Linked DNA regions of Homo sapiens: region 1 is linked to region 2. Evidence: fine-mapped expression QTL. A gene starts in region 2. The other region holds a variant in brackets. All regions are shown on one strand. Distances are from middle to middle.

Region 1 (8,342 bases), 260 kb before region 2:
AAATTGTTTTTGTATTTAATATTTGGAATCTTCGCTTTTCTTTCAAAAGACAATAGCAACAAGTAGGGTTCAGCTTTCTTTACAGTACGCTACAATAGAATACCTGTAGTTTAGTTAGGGTAATTAGTCATTATAAAACAATTTATCACAAGAAAGTAAGAACCCTGGAGCACAATTTATTAGATATTTGCCAAATGAACAGCCATAGTACTCTCTAGAACCACCATCTTCAGAGAAGATTAAAACTGCCTCAGAAACCAGTGCTCACACTGCCTGACTTCTACATTACCTGACCATCTCACTCCTTTACACTGTGGTCTCTCCATTGTGGCTTCTTCCACGAATGGGCCCCTTATTACTCAAGGAATTTGGTGTGTTCAGAGCAAAACATCACTGAAGAGTCTTAAAAGTGATGGCTAAAAATCACACTGGCTAAAAACCATGTCACCAGTTTTGGTGTTTGTTTGTTTGTACATCGTCTCCCAGGGATGAACCAAAGATCAGATATTGAAGAGCAGCAAGCAACAGAGAGAAGGGGGACCCTGAACCTGTTAACGCCCTTAGTGCCCTTGCCTGGCCTCCTCTGCAGAACTCCACTGCAATTGCTGCCACATCCAGCAGATCCAGAAAGAAGTGTCTTAGTTGCTCTAGTGTATGCATCTGGATTTATATCTATAAACAACTGAAAAAGCAATTTTACGCCATTTTATTCGATTTTTTTCCTTTCTCTAAAGGAGAGGGGGGCCGTGTGCTATTGTGGAGGCAACCCTGTTCATGACACCTAGCTGCCACTGTTTCTAATGAGTTGTCTTACTTTCAACTTCTTTAACCCTCATTTTTCAACTCATAAAAAGAGGATAATTTTTCACCAACAAATATTTATTGAGTGCCTGCTATGTGCCAGGCACTGTCTTAGGTACCTGGTCCACAGTGGTGACCATGTAGTTGGAATTCGTGCCCTGATGCAGCTCACTTCCTAGTGGAAGAGACAGACAAGACAATAAATATTTTAGGACAGTGAGATGTTGTAAGGAGACAAATAGGAGAGGAGTGTACTGACCTTAAATGCTTCCTTAAAACATGACTGTGAGGATTAACTAAGATAAGGACTACGAATGCATTTTGTCACAAATGAATTCATTTTTGTGGTTGCTGCTCACGCTGATGGTTCTCTTCGGTTATTATCCTTGAGTTGCTTTCCCTGACCAGTTCTGGTCCCTGGTGAGCCACTGACACAATTATGACCAAACATTCTGGCAGCCAAAAGCTTGTATCTATGGGGACCTTCCCTGGGATAAGCAGGGCAGCTTACAGTCACAGAGCACAGGGTTTCACTGAGAGAAAGTCAACAGCACAGATAAAGGTTGAACTTATAACCTGGGTTTTAATAGCTCCCTGATCAAGGCTAATAGGCTAACTGGTAGATACAAAGTTCAAAAACATTTTAACGTATAAAAAGGTATTCCAGTTCATAGGACAGCATTCTTTTCCATCAACTATGTACATATAATCTCTCTTTTGGATCACAACTTCGGCCAGGAGGTTATGGCGTATAGCGTTGCCCTTTAACTGCACAGTTGGAAAGATGTTTTTTACTCAGATTGAGCCACCTCGTTTCTGATTGCTTCATGCCAATGCCATTTGTTTCCTGCTGTGAATCTTAAACTATCAACGTCAATATTACCAAGTTTGACACACCGTGCTTCAGTGAGCCCTTGAAAGGGCTTTCCTGCCCAGCGAAAATAAAGGAAATGTGCAAATGGGCAACAGGCAAAGTTTACTTTTACTTGACAAGGTGCATCTCTCATAACTGCAGATAATGGCAGGACATGAGAGGCTCACGGACTAAAGGGTCTGTCCTGTCTAAAAGAGCTCTGGGGATCATGTGGTCCACCCTCTGATTCCCAAAACATCTGAATTAGCAGTTCCTACAAATTACATCTCTGGTAAGGGGAGTTTATGAATGTGCTCTGGGTCTACCTATGATTAGAATCAACGAAGCCTTTTATTTGTATTTGTATAGATCATGACTTTTGCATCTGTGCTACAAAGTGTAGGCAGTGTTTTGTTCACAAGGGGCTATGATTTTATATTAAAAGTGTATCAAACATGCTACTGTTTGCTCATATCTCCTTTGTTTTGATGTGCCCAGAGAAGGGACTGAATAATGTGCTTTATTTCTAGAATACTTTCAAAGGATTGTGTGCATTGAAATAAAAAGAATGGATTGGAAGTGTAGGTTAAGTAATAAGAAAATTGGGACGTACTGGGAGACATGCCGTCTGGGAGTAGCGGATCACTTACTAGAACTACCTCTGTGTATTCATAGCAGCATGAGCTAGCAAGAATGCTTCTTCACACCATATTTAAACTTGGGAATTTAAGTTGCTTTCTCATATTTTTCCACGGAATGTTAATGGGATGCTTGCAAAAATAGAGATGTCAAGTGGGATATTGACTTCCTAACATCAGTTCAGAACATTGATATTTGAGTTCATTTAGAGGCACTTAAATCATTAGATACACGTGACATTCAGCTTAAAAATACATCTTAAGAAGCAAAATTAAAACCTTATATTCTGCTTGAGCCAGACAGCTTCCCTGTGCAGAATACTTGTATGCCCCAACTTATTGGAGACTTGAAGAAAAGTACAATTTTTACATTAGTATTTTATTATGGAAATCATCCAATAATCCTTTCAAATAATACATTATAAAACATTAAAATAGCATGAAACGAAGACAGGAAAAGGCTGGAAATCCTCTCCTTTTGAGCATGGTATTAATAACTTGGAACAATCATTCTAGGAAAATTACAATGTCTTTCAGCTATTTTAAAGTGTCTGACTCTGTAAGTGACCTTAAGCTCCTTTAAAACAATTACAAGATTCAAATATTTGTCTGCCAAAATTTTATAGCATGTTAGATAATGGGATAGATGTAATTATATATAGTCTCAATATTTCTAGGTATACCTAATTTAGTTAATATTAACATCACTCACTCATTTATGGTTTTATAAACTTTGAGTCACATAAGGTCAAGGTCTCAAAACTAATCATAAAAACTAGTGACTGCTATTCATGCTAATATAATGATCCTTTCTTTAAAACAACAGCCAATAAATTTCATTATAAAAAGTTATTAAAAGGGTTAAAAACCTATTAAATGTCAAAGAATTTGCCTGACTCAAACTTCTAATAAAGAAAGAGAATAGGCTTTCTTTCTGAATTATTTAAATCTTTACTGACTGTGCACCGAACCATGAAATTAGAAAAGTGTTATTAGAAGTATTCTCTGGTTTTTATAAAAGTTGGAGCCCAGAATGTATCAAGCCATAGTCTTTAACTAGACTAGCTAAAGCAGTAGGTCTTTAATCCTAAATACATGGCTTCTACTGATATAAAGATCATAATTAAAACTCTATCCTGTAACTTGGTGATAATAAAGTTATTATTACAGAGGCACACATGTTCATTTAGAATATATGAACTACATGTTCTAATTTTAATTTGAACAAATATCTTCCATTTTGGGGGGATAGTTCCATGTCCACTAACATAGACCCTCTCAACTAATAATAAGGTTTTAATAGTGACTGACTTTAAAGCACTAATGTTAATAATTTGAATTATCTATCATTTACTGGTTTAACACCTACCAAATATACATTGAAATTATGTCATTATGGTCTAAAGTGTTAAAAAAAATCATAATCCTGCATGATTATAGCCCTGTGTGACAAGTGGCATAAATAAATTTAGGTATTATTGAAAAATAGGAAATATATCTTTCACATTTTCAATCTCTATTTCTCCAAGTGACTATACTCAGCACAACTGATTTGAACTGGTCTCTCTCTCACAAGCAGGTAACTGTCCTCATATCAGTTTCCTCAAATGCCCATTCTTAGCCTTTGGTAATTGTGATTTTAAGTTCTCTTATTAAAAATATCTAATACTGACAGGTCCCACCTAATATACTAAGCACGGTACTAAGAAGTTTCCATGAATTACCCTATTTAGGACTCACAGCAACCAGGTGAAACTGTTACAGTCGCCACTGCCATGGTACTCACGAGGGACCCAAAGGAACAGAGAGGGCATTCTCCAGTTATTCAGTAAGTGGGTCAGCTGCAATTTGTCACAGGGCGCCTGATCTCAAAGCCTATATCATAACCATGGAACTGTACTATTGACTCAGTGTATGATCTGATGATGTTTTTAGCTGTTCTTTAAACAAAAGATAGTTGGAAGGACTTATAGGGGAGGATGCAGCTAGAACCTAGAATGACTGAATTTAATGCACTAATTTCTTTTGCAGGAAATTCAATTAATTTTTTTTTTAACTGAACACT[T/TAA]ACTCTGTGCCTCGCACTGTGAGAGGTCCTAGGGGAAACAAAGACAGATGAGACTATCCCTGTACTCAAATAACTCACAGCCTGGAAGACATACTATAATACAAGTCAAAGGGGATTAATTGCTATAACCAAAATTGCACTGCTATAGAATTGCAGAGAATAATGCTGCAACAAGGAGTCTGTCTGCATTGCATTAAAATTGCAGTGAGCATCACTTAGAATTAAGAATTTTTTTTTTAACATCAGAAGGTACATGAGTAGAATTTAACTCCGGAGGCAATATAATTGACAGCAGACACACCATCTAATTGTTTGACAGTCAGTACATCTGCTATATTTTCATAAAAGTAATGATATGTCTAAGATAGTGTGAAAGAAAATTGAACAAAAATAAAACAATCATGTGGCCTTTCATCCAATGATAAGGATGAGTTTAAAACCTCAAAAATTCAACATACAATCAAATTATACTTTAAAAAATGTGGCTAAAAGCTATCTGACAGTTTGATTTCTGTTTGGGAATTAGCAATGTGATTCTTAAGTGTATTGTCCTGTAAGTCTTAGGATGACTAGACTTAGTCTGTAGTTTCAAGACTATATGTCAGAATATATTCTGAGGTATAAAGTTGTTTTAACTGAAAGAAATCAAAAAACAAAAATAAAAAATACACTACCATTTGATACTATATTAGCAGAGAGACCATTTCACCAGTCCCCAAATATGGGCCTAACGTTTCAAAAATAACTTGGGTTTTTTCATTGGGTCCTAAAAAACATTTATGGGTACAGCAACAGTAGCCATTTTTATCTAGAGCTTTACAACGTTCATTTCATTAGCTAAAAATGTTGCCACATAAATTATGCTTTCACAGAGTGACTGACAAACATTTCCATCAAAACCTTTCTTTATATTGTTTCACTTGTCAATCAGTGCCTTTCACTTGTTAGTAAAGCATGTTTTCTAGAAGGGAAGAATGAAAGCAAAACACTCTGTAAGAGAAGGTGGAGAGTGCACAAGTCTTACTGTGGGCCCAGACGGGGATCATGGCTTAATTATGTGAAAGCTTAATAACTCTCTGAGACAAAATTGAAAGGGAAAAGGAACTTGGAACAAATTCATTGTGAGGCATAAACACTGAGTAGACATCGTTCGCTTAAAAAATACAGTTTCCTTTCACTTTAACAGTGAAAGACTAAATGGATGCTTGATGGGTTTATGAGAGCTGGTATCAGAAACTTGTATCAGAAAAGAAGAGCTTTCCCTACATTCAGTTTTAGATGAAGACAACTTTTCCCACTTAACCATTAAGTGGCATCTCTCCCATGCAATCTAACTGAGGAAGGTGGTGGATGGGTGAGACACTGAGGAGATGTTGACCTTAAAGACCCAGCAAAGCCTGTGGAACCATTTCTAGGCCATTGTAAGCTTTTAAAATTGTGTACAAGGGGTTTAACCACAGGAGAGTAATGAATACATATGTTGATTATAATGACTCTGGTGTGGTCCCTGCCATTATATATTGGAAGGCTGTCTCAGAATAAGAATTCAATTAAGTTTGCAGTTAACTCTGAATATTCATGCCAACAATCAGGATAACACAATTTTGGTAAAATGTCCAAATATTCTCAGAAAACAGTGTTTTTAAAAATTTAATTTGGTATCCTCGTACTTTTTTTTTTTTAGTTTTAATTCTTGTTGAAAACTGTTCTAGAATGCCTTTGCCTGCTTTTCTGTCCCTGTTAAATACCTGATTCTCAATAAAATCTTGAAAGGATTTCAAGAGAATAAATTTTCCCCTCAATTATAATTGTGAAGTTTTGTGGTTATGGAATATGGAACAGACTAAAGCAATTGTATGCTGCTCTGTGGACATGCCCTTCTTAAATATATTTTCGGTCTTTATGTGGTAAAAACAAAAAGAAAAGAAAAAGAAAATATGAGTCAGCTAATTGAGAGTATTGTTTGGAGTCGTTAGTAGAGATTTTAATCTGCCAGGGGAATTTTTTAAAATTAGAAGTAATATTCATTTTGTCATTTCACTATCTTTTTTCTTAATTATGGTAATGACAGTGGCTTTTTTTTTTTTTTTTTTTTGTCCTGAGACAGAGTCTCACTCTGTCGTCCAGGCTGGAGTGCAGTGGCACGATCTTGGCTCACTGCAACCTCCACCTCCCAGGTTCAAGTGATTCTCCTGCCTCAGCCTCTGGAATAGCTGGGATTACAGGCACCTGACACCACACTTGGCTAATTTTTGTACTTTTAGTAGAGACAGGGTTTTACCATGTTGCCCAGGCTGGTCTCAAACTCCTGACTTCAGGTGATCCACCCGCCTCAGCCTCCCAAAGTGCTGGGATTATAGGCATGAGCCACTGTGCCTGGCTGACAGTGACATGTTTTTAACAACAACAAAGTACGACTGTGGCCTAAGTCTATATACTAACAGAACCACTTAAACAATAAATTTCTGTATTGTAAAAGAGTTGACTTGCACTTAGTTATACAGGGATTGCTGGATGAGAAGGTACACTGACTGACATACTCATCAAGCAGTGGTTCAATAACCTCCAACAGGGTCAGACTGCCAGACACTAAAAAGGATAAATTATTTTAGGATTTACATAATTACCAGACTGATAAGCCTCACACATTTTAATGCCACAGGAATAAAAAATAGCAGCATTATTTATTACAAAACCTTAATTGCAACAAAGTAACTGATAGAAACAGCTGCTATGTAAGTACTTACCTTTGGACACAAATTTATGCTTTCTATCCTTTTCTTAACCAATGCCCCCAGGCAATCTTAACTTAGGTAAATTTTTTCAATATGATGCCCAGCCTCCTGAAAAAAATGTTAATTGGCAGAATGGCCATTTAGAATAGAATTATAATCTTACTAACTGCACATTTATAAATTGATATTTGCAACTCTGTTGTCCCCTAATTTCCTGGTGATAGAAGAATTCAAATACTGATGTCAAATTGAGTAGCTTTTAAAAGAATGTTAAGTATGTGTGCTACGGTGAGGCAAGATATTTCTTACAAGTTATGAGAAATGCACTTTGCTTATGGGTAAAACGTGGTTTAATGATATGGAAATAAGCTCAAAGTTCCTCTGTATTGTATTTACTTACAATTTTTGTGTCTAAGACATATTTAATATCTCAGCATAATTATATGACCACAACATGACAACTCCAATAAATAGGAAAAATCTCATTTACATTGATCAACTGAGGGAAAAGTGAGAAACTTGCACCATTAAAGTTTAGAGCCTATTATAGGAGAACAAGAAGGAATATCTACCCAGCATTTTTTAAATTTAAAACCCTCTGATCATTCTTCTGCATCTACATTTACAAAAGCTAATAGAATTTTCCAGGAACAGTTTATTTTTTGAAGACAAAAAACACTCTTGGCAAAGACAGAAGTCAGAATCTTCTGGAATAGTACATTATATTTTATTTCCCCTTTCATAGGCCAGGGGTATTTTAGTTAAAGACTAAAATCACTTATATTTTGATGTTGTTCTTTTTTAATAAAAAAAAGGGAGATAGCTTTTATTTGGCTTATGTTCCTGGCCTTCAGCCCCAAACGCTCATTGTCTGCTCACAAGGTATAGCACATAAGCAGGCGCTGTCCCCATTCTGGGGGTGGGGGTTGAAGGGACTAAAGGGCTGGGTCTAGATGAATAAGGCTCTACGTTTCAGTCTCCCTCGAGGGCAGCCTCCTCTAAGAGGCTTTCCCGGACAAGCCTATTAAACGTAGATCCATCCTTCCTAACCCAAGCATCTTTTTCACAGCATAACCACAATCTAACATTGTCTAGGGTAAGACTCTGCAAACTCTAACATGTACATGAATCTTTTAGGAATCCTCTTAAAGTGTAATTGTGATTCAGAAGTTCTGAGGAGGGGCCTGAGACTCTGCATTTCTAACATTCCAAGGTGGTGTCAATGTGGCTAGTGTGTGAACCCAAGTTTG
Region 2 (8,342 bases):
AAAACTTCTGAAAAGTGCCAGCTGATAAAACTCCCAGGGGAATTTTAATTATATATATGTGATGTATGAATTATCAACTATGAATTTCCCAAAGTCCTAGAAGTTATGGAGGTGGATGAAGAACTAATCAAGCATGATGCTCTAAACTGCTTATAACCCTCCCTTCTTTACCTTCTTTCTTCCCATACTCCTCCTTGACCTACTCTTCCTCCCATCTTTTCCTTTTTCTTACATTTACTGTTCAAAATAGGAATAATGACTCCTTCTTAATGTGCTTACAAATCCTGTATTTTTGATGAGTATTGCCACATTAAAGTATAATACATAATACATTTTAAATAGAAAATAAGCTCAAAGGAGATTTTGCAGAGACTGTAATGAATCTCGTTATTCTTAAAAGTTATCAAATGTCTAATGTTTGTCCTGACATTTTCAAGCAGAGTTCATCACAAATGGGTCCTTCCTTGTGCGTTTTTACGAAAAAGAACATATACACTGTCCTTCCTCATTTCAATGATAAAAGCTGAATATTCCAAATGCCCACTATTCTTCACTCTGTATATCACCAGCATGAAGCATGGGTTTGTGTTTTGGACTTCCCTGTTTCTAAATCAACCAAAGAAAGATTCAGGACATGATTCCATAAAGGCAACCACTGAGAACAGTGAAGCCCATTATTTCTCCTCCCACTGCAGGCCGAGGTCACCATCCCTGTCATTAGCCATGTCATAACATAATTGTATTACTACTCCTTATGTGGGCAGATACTGAGCAATAACTGAACACATCACATCGTTGTAAAAATGAAAAAGTACCACTTCTTTGTCCTATCTTAGCATAAAACCAGTGAAAACAATCTTTGGAAATGACGCTGCACTAAGAAACTGAAAAGAACTGTTATTACTCTGTAGGTATATATTTAAACTGATGATCTGACATCTTTAACTAGAATAGAAAACAAGACTATATCACTACAGAACTCCAATTGTAAGCTCATTTAATCCAATTTATTTTGGTAGCATTCAGCTCAATTAAGGGATACAATGTTACTTAAAATAGTCTAATTAGATGAAACTCCACTATGGTACTCATCTTTCAATGTCTGAAATATAACCATGCATTAGGCTGCAAGAGGTGAATACTGTTAACTCCAGCCTCCATGTGTCTGTCCAGTCTATGAGCTACACTGCTATTTCCAACACTGACCTATATACAGCAACATGCCATCCGTTCTGGCTGTTTGTGTAAGAGATGCCTCACACACTTGCCTTAACCAACATCATTCGCATTGTTCCCACAATGGGCTATGTGAAAATGGAGGCTACTTTGCATAGTGATATGTTCATAACGTGTATTAGTCTTACAGTAGAGCAATACTAGATTAAACCGTTTCCAAAAATGCCTCCTCCAGAGTTTATTAACTGAAAAATGTAAGTAGCATTTTGGCAATCTATAGAGCAGCAGTGCCGGAAAGTGTCAGCAGAGTAAAACAATCACATTTTAGTTTAGAAAGCTTCAGGAAGAGAATATTCATTTTCTCCATTAGAGTCTCTTCTGACATTGAAAAAAATGTCACCGGGAAACTGTAGCTACAGTTGTAGGATTCTAAAGCACAGATAGATACTGGTTCCGCTGGGATTTAGCACACCAACTTTAAATAAGCAAAGTGTTGACAGGTTTAAAATAAAGATAATTAGTAATTTATGATCTTATCACCCTATTAAAAACAAATCACCTGACAAACTGACTGCTATTTGTAGTAAGCTACATATTCATTACGCCTCCGAAGGAAGCAAGATTTACTTTGCAGTATTGTTCTTTTGGGGATGTCTGATCCAACTTGTTTTAATAAATGTAGGCACAGATTTCTTACTTCACCTTTTCCAAACTTCTGTCCTTCTTCCATTTCCCTGCAAATCCACTCATGTCATTGCAAAAACAAATGCTAGTTGACTGCATTATGCACAACTACAATTGTGGAGCTGGACAGAAATTTTGTACCAATGCTAATCATGGTGGAGTGAAAAAACTCAAGTGCCTGGGATTTGTGGGGCCTAGAAAACTATCCAGTACATTTAATATAATCGGGACCAGTGACAAATATATCTGATGGACTGCTACACAGAGATGGGCCAGAGATGTCCCTGGAGAAACATTTCCATGAAGTCTTCTTCCACTATTAGAAACATGTCTTATGACTTTGGATTTTAAAAAATCTATTATTCTCTGGATAAGTTAAATAGAAGACTCGCAACTAGTCTACAGAAAGGGTGCCTAATTTGCATTTAAAAAGAACAGTTTGCTTCTTATACACGGGGTGACTTAAAAGGAACTTCAATGAGCTAGTAAAGAAATTCTGAATACTTTCTAAATTAATTTATTCAATTCACAGCACAACCCACTAAAATTATTTAAAGCACTTAATTGGAAAATGATTTAATATATTGAAGTAATTCCTGATTTTCCAAAGCATTTAACTTTTAAATTAAATCTGACCCTACTTATCACAAGAACGAGGAGTGAAATGTGTATCCAAGTCATTAACTTCTTTTTGGGGCCTAAAATCACTGATAAACTTAATAAGATTTGTCCAGTCTCATTGCCAAAATAGTTCTGAGCTTTTGGTTCCGGTAACTACAGTGGAATAAGTCTTTACTCTCCAAGATAGGGCTGCAACTTTATTATTTTTTATTAGCAATAGTATTGGTGTCATAAGCAAAATAAAACGTAACACAATACTTGAGTGTACAGACAAAACAGATTTTAGACTAAAAGAACTATGTCACCAGCAAATAATGAAACTTCATCACACAAACTCCTATGCGCTTGCCAAAGTTCCCCGTACCTTTCAACTTGCCCGTAGCTGAAGGGCTCCCTGTACAATGGAAGCCCTTCTGCCTTGCTCAAGACTGGATGTCCCTCTTTTCTAACTTGCCTAAACACCATCGGCACACAGCACAGTCCTTTGAGTGGGTCTCACACTGGACACAGCATCGAGGAGCTTCTCCACGGGGAAGTGTGTGTGTGAGAGCCTGCCTGTGTGTCAACACTGTCCAAGACTCGGAGCTGCGACTCGGTCGCGTGGTGCGGAGTCCAGGGCTGAGAAGGCAGCGCACTAAATATCTCTGTATCAGGTAAAAAAGCCGTTTGGTGATGACTCGCCACCAGGCAAATGTTGGGAGTCCCAACGATTTTTCCCGTGGAATGCACCGAGGGTCGCCATGGATGTGCCTGCAGGGGCTGTGAGTATCAGGCAGATTTATCACCAAGCGAGAGTTGGGCGTCTAAAAGGCCCGCCCAGCGTTTTAGAGAACTCAATTCTCTCTGCCAACGTTCATCCAACGGGACTGCTTAGACACGTCCAACTAGCCCTAGGCGTGGGCAGTCGTGCCCCTGCGACCACTCTGGGGGACCGGTCCCTGCGTGTCCTCCCTCTCTGGGATGAGAGAGTTCGAGAAGCCGGGAGAGTAACCCCCTCCCTCGTACCCCCTGACTGTCCTATAGGTGGACCCAGCCGAACTCCGCAGCAGCCCAGGCCAGCGCCCCACCTCCGGGTCACCGGCATGATCCGCCTCTCCCCGGGCCCCCGCGGCCCTGGCACCCGAGGTCAGCGGGCCGTGGGTACAGCTCAGCCGCGGACCCTGCTCCGCGAGTGCGGGAGCTTTGGACTTGAACGCGACGTGCTCGCCCGGCTCCCAACAAACTTGCAATTTCCGCGCGCACCCCTTAAACAGGAACTGTTCCCCAAACCTTGACCCAGCTACCCCGCTGTGCTCTGGCCCGCGGACCTGTGTCCGAACCCGGGCTCGGCTGCCGGAACCGGTTTGAGAAAACAAAAGAGTTGTGGGGCAGTTTTCCCTGTGGGGGGCAGGGGCGCCTCCCAGGTCCCTGCACCCCGACTCCCGGCTGCTCCCCTGGCAACTAATCCGGAGAAGGGAAGTGGTGCCACGAGCCCCCACTGCCCGGGGAGGGAGGGAGAGAGAAGGGGGAACTGGGAAATAAACTGAATTCTCTTACTCTGCCTCCGTTCCTGGACCCCAGACACACCCCCAAAGTATTCCACGGTTTTCTCTTATTATTTTTTTAAACGCCCCCCGGCAAACCTAGGCAGGGATCCTTAGCCGCGAACAGCAGGAAGGAAAGAATCCGAGCAAATCGTGTCACTTTCCGCACAATCGCGGTGTTTGGCAAGCCCCCGGAGCTACTCCACAATATTTACTACCCAAGCGCACGCAGGCTGCAGCGGGCTGCGAGCCGAGCGCGCCCGGGACCGGCCTCCGCCAAGCCGGCCCCGCCGCGGCCCGGCCACCGCCGCTCCCCTCCCAGGATCAAGCAGCAAGAACACGGTGGAAACAAAAGCAGAGCGTTCACCTTGTTGCAATAGTAGGGGTCCAGGCAGGGAGAAGGTCCCAGACAGGGAGCGTCGGGCGCAGCGGCGGGCTGGGCTGGAGGTGGATAAAATCTTACGTCCATTTCACTCTCACATCAAGCAACTCCTTTTCTTTTTCCTTTTTTAAAAAAAAGTGTTCAGCAAAACAAGCTTAGACGGAACAGAGTGAGGTGTCTGGGCTCAGGAGTAAAAGAAACACCTTCCTTCCCTCACATCCGTTTGTGGTTTGTTTAAGAAGAAGAGGAAAAAAAAAAAAAAGAGGGGGGAAAAGCGCTCAACTCTCCCCCAAGCCGCGGCGCGCACCCGTCGGCGCCGAGCGCGCAGCCTGCTCCACCGCCGCCTCTTGGTCCCGCCGCCGCCGCTGCCGCCGCCGCCGGGCAGGTAACTTCATGCGCTCATTGTCCCCCCCGCCCGCCCCCCCATCCCCGCCTCCCGCGCCCCTCGCAGCCCGGCACACGCGCTCGGGCTCTAGGTACTGGGCGTTTTATTGGAGATTCTGAGTTGTTCTGCTTGTAGTTTATTTTCTCCACCTTGGAGGCCCGGGATGTGGGGGGTGGGGGGGTGGGGCGGGGATCCAGAAGGGACAGGGCGGGAGGGGGGCGAGCGTCCCGGGCCGGGCGGGGTAGGGAGCGCGGCCGGACGCGGGCTCGTCAAGGCCCAATGGCTGCTGTTCGGAACCAGAGGCCGGGGACCGGAGAAAGGAGGAGCGGAGAAGGAGAAGGAGGAGAGCACGGCCTGGCTGGGACAGAAGCGGTGGGACCCTGGGAGGCCTCCGCTGTGCCCGTGCCGCGCTCCTCGGGACCAGCGCGTCGCACACAAAGGGGCTGCCGAGCCAGAGCCACCAGCGGCCTCAGGGCACCGTGGGGAGCGCGCAGCTAGGGGGCGCTGTGGCGCACCCCGCCCCGCAGCCCCGCCCCCGGCCCTCCCCGGCCCCACCCCACTCCCACCGCCCTCTCCGCGGCCGTCCCCACCCCTATCTCCGCGACCCCCACTCCTCCTCGGCTGTTCCCCAACCCTGTCACTGTGCTCCCCTCCCTACTCCCGGCCCGTAGTGGAGGTGACTTTCCTGCGCAGCGCCGCTTCTGAGGGCGGAGAACCCACAGGGAGTGCGACCCCTTTGCACGCTGTGAGTGGGCAACTGTCCGAGGGACTCGAGCCGATCGAAGGGTGAGGACCAGCTCGCCTGGGGGTGGACGGCCTGGAAAAGCCGCCCCTCTTTGGCTTCCCTCTGCCGCCTGCAGCCCGCACCCCTCCGAGATTCGTGCCCCACTGGACGGTTTGCGAAGGCTGAGGCTGCCTTGGGGACTCACAAAAGACCACAGGGGTGATTCGAAGTGTAAATAGGGAAACAATCATCAGCACACAATCCGGCTAAAGGGATAACATATGAGTTTGCTTGTTGTCCTTCATGGGATTCTTCTCTTTTTATAGCTGGACGCCCTATAGGGCTCTTGGCAGTCCACGAAAGACCTGGAGTCCGCCTCCCCATTTCTCCGGTCGGTGAGTGGCAGGAGGAAATCGCCAAACATGTTTTCCCGCTTTGCCTCCCCAACTCGGAAACTTGCAACTTGCCGTGTCCTGGAGGTTGAGACAATTTGGGGTCTCTTGGCTGCCGTCCAACAGATTTATCTCTGAGGGCAGTGTCCTTGGTGAGAGGTCCAAGTAGGTGTGGGCGACATTGTCCTCCATCTCATGAGGGAGCAGCCCTGCACACTAGGGCCCAAAACTCTGCGAAGGAGCTTGGAAGTTCTTCATCCGTTCCACTTGTTTTGCTACTCCACACACCCTTCTAGGACATGTTGATTGCCAACTGCTCTGTGCAGCTTTCCCATAGCTGTCTGTTCCCGTGCATTTCGGAGCACCAAGCAAATACGAGCAGAGAGACCTGGAAAAAAAAATGATGAAGACAGTATTAATGATAAAATTAACATGGCTGAGTGAATTGTCAATGCAAGTTCCTTTACTAACTCTTTGTTAAGTTTTGCTTTGTACTCCTTACATCCTCTTTCTCTTAAGCCATTGTTTTAATTTCTTCTCGTTATCATTTTTAAAAGTAACAGAAATACAGCTTTCTTCCTACCTTCACGATTGACTTGGTGGAGGTTGGGTTGCAAAGAGGAAGCAGTAAGAAAAAATAATTATTCTATACATTCACAAGTCCTTCAAGGCACAAAATAAAAGTAAGAAATAGAAAATATGTCCTTTCTCCTAATAAAGGTCTTTATAATAAAATTTAAATGAAGTTTTGTGTTTCATAACAGCTTCCCAAATACTGTTGTAGATACTAAAATGTGCCTGTATGTATTTCCTTCCACAATAATAATAGTAATAATAAACTTTTTTAGGTCCAAATTAAACATTTCTCAGCTTAAATTTCTATCCTCAATCCAACATTTATTATATCAAAACTTGATTTTTAAAAATAAAACTTTCTTGGAATTCATCATTGATGTCTGTTTGATGGCCTCGTGAACATCAGGAAGATGAAATGAAATGGTTCAAGACTGGAACAATACCATTATCTGCATCTTGACTCCTGGGAGATAATGATATCTCCTGCTTTCCTCTACAGACCTACCAGTTTTCTCTGCTTTAAGGGAAAATCCAAATGCATGAGACCTGTGCATTCTTCTACATAATCAAGAGTCTGGTTTCTTCCATCGGAGTGTATGGAGTTAAAGTGGTATACTGTACATGGCATGGTGTGATAGGTGGGAATATGAGCTACTGGGGGAAAAAGTTCTTACTTCTAGCCACTTATACAAAGAGAGGCCATCTCAGTGTAATCTGAAAAAATGCTCACTTTATAATGCTGTATCCAAGGCCCATCAAAAACTAAATGGATGTATTTGTACTAAAAGTTGGGGAAAGTTGAATATCTAAACCTCTGAGCAAATCTTTCTTAATTTAGAAAATAAAATAGAGCATCATTGTAATACTTTTCAGTTTCCTGGACATTCAACTCCACATCATGGATAAATAAAATAGTTATTTGTCCATTCACTCATTCATTTGTACATTAATCAACAGAGAGAGTGGTGAAAAACACTAATGCTTTGTATTATTTATAGGTTTAAAATACAAAACAAATTACTTAAAATGGTTCCTGCTCTAGATGTAGTCTTTCAGAGTAGTATTTTCCAAACTAGTCTGGTCAGTGAAGTCATCTTAGCAGTTTAGAAAAATACTCATGCCAGAGCCCCACACGCACAGATTCTGATTCAGTTCTTTTCAGGTAGGGCCTGAGCACAGGAATTTTTAAAAGCTCTCCAGTGGCTTTAATTTTCAGAAAAGATTGAGAACCACTGGCCTAAAAGGAAAGATAAGGTAGTCTAGAAGGAAAGAGTCCTTAACAAAGGAAATGTTAAAAGTATGAAATTTTAGTAGATAGGCTGGATTGTCATTTTGTGTTGATCCCCATAAGAGGACATTGAGGATCACCACTCCCAAAACCTCATCACCTACGCTGCCTTTTAGAGATGGAGTTGGCAATTTGCCCATTTACTGTCAGTAAACTTGCATGACTTGTAAAGGTCCAGGTTACAGTTTATTCACCTGACCTAGGAACTTTATGTACTCTAGTTACCAGAAAATGAGTGCCTGTAAACAAAACGTGTCTTTACCAGTGCTGATGTAATGCTATCAGTACCTACTTGTGAAATGCCTACTATATCGTGGACCTGGTCCTAATTTCTTTACATTGAATTTCGCAGTCTTATTTAATTTTCCAGATTACTTTGGAAAGCCTCATCAGTAATTACAAACCACACGGAGCATTTGATTTTGTTCCCTCAACATTGCCCATCTTCACTTTAATTATAGTTTCACAAATTGTTACGTTTTCAAATTTATACTTGTTTTCAGTGACCACATTTTATGTCTACTGATTCTTTGTATTATGTAGGTTAAGTCCTAAATCTTGTAGTAATGTCTCCAAATCACATACAGAATG

Alleles and levels. Alleles are on the strand shown, and positions count from the first base shown. SD is a standard deviation of normalised expression in the study named.
For the expression in fibroblasts of the gene that starts at base 4,696 in region 2, allele T in region 1 goes with a higher level than allele TAA (small effect, 0.22 SD a copy in GTEx).

Evidence for each region. PIP is the estimated chance that this variant, and not a neighbour inherited with it, causes the effect.
Region 1: its variant is the best candidate, but not a certain one, in a credible set for the expression of TOX-DT in fibroblasts (GTEx, PIP 0.64).

The regions. Positions count from the first base shown.
Region 1 is chr8:58,859,396-58,867,737 of GRCh38, forward strand. The region is part of intron 3 of TOX (thymocyte selection associated high mobility group box); the gene reads right to left. Among named protein-coding and RNA genes, the nearest start is that of NSMAF, 200 kb to the left of the region's middle. The variant T/TAA (reference allele first, on the strand shown) is at 4,358.
Region 2 is chr8:59,114,515-59,122,856 of GRCh38, forward strand. It overlaps TOX-DT (TOX divergent transcript), which reads left to right and starts at 4,696. Exons shown (of 3, transcript NR_149031.1): 1 at 4,696-4,771; 2 at 5,443-5,557; 3 at 5,822-8,342. TOX (thymocyte selection associated high mobility group box) reads right to left here and starts at 4,633. Exons shown (of 9, transcript NM_014729.3): 1 at 4,372-4,633. The coding sequence starts at 4,473. RefSeq lists silencers at 1,270-1,319, 5,158-5,377.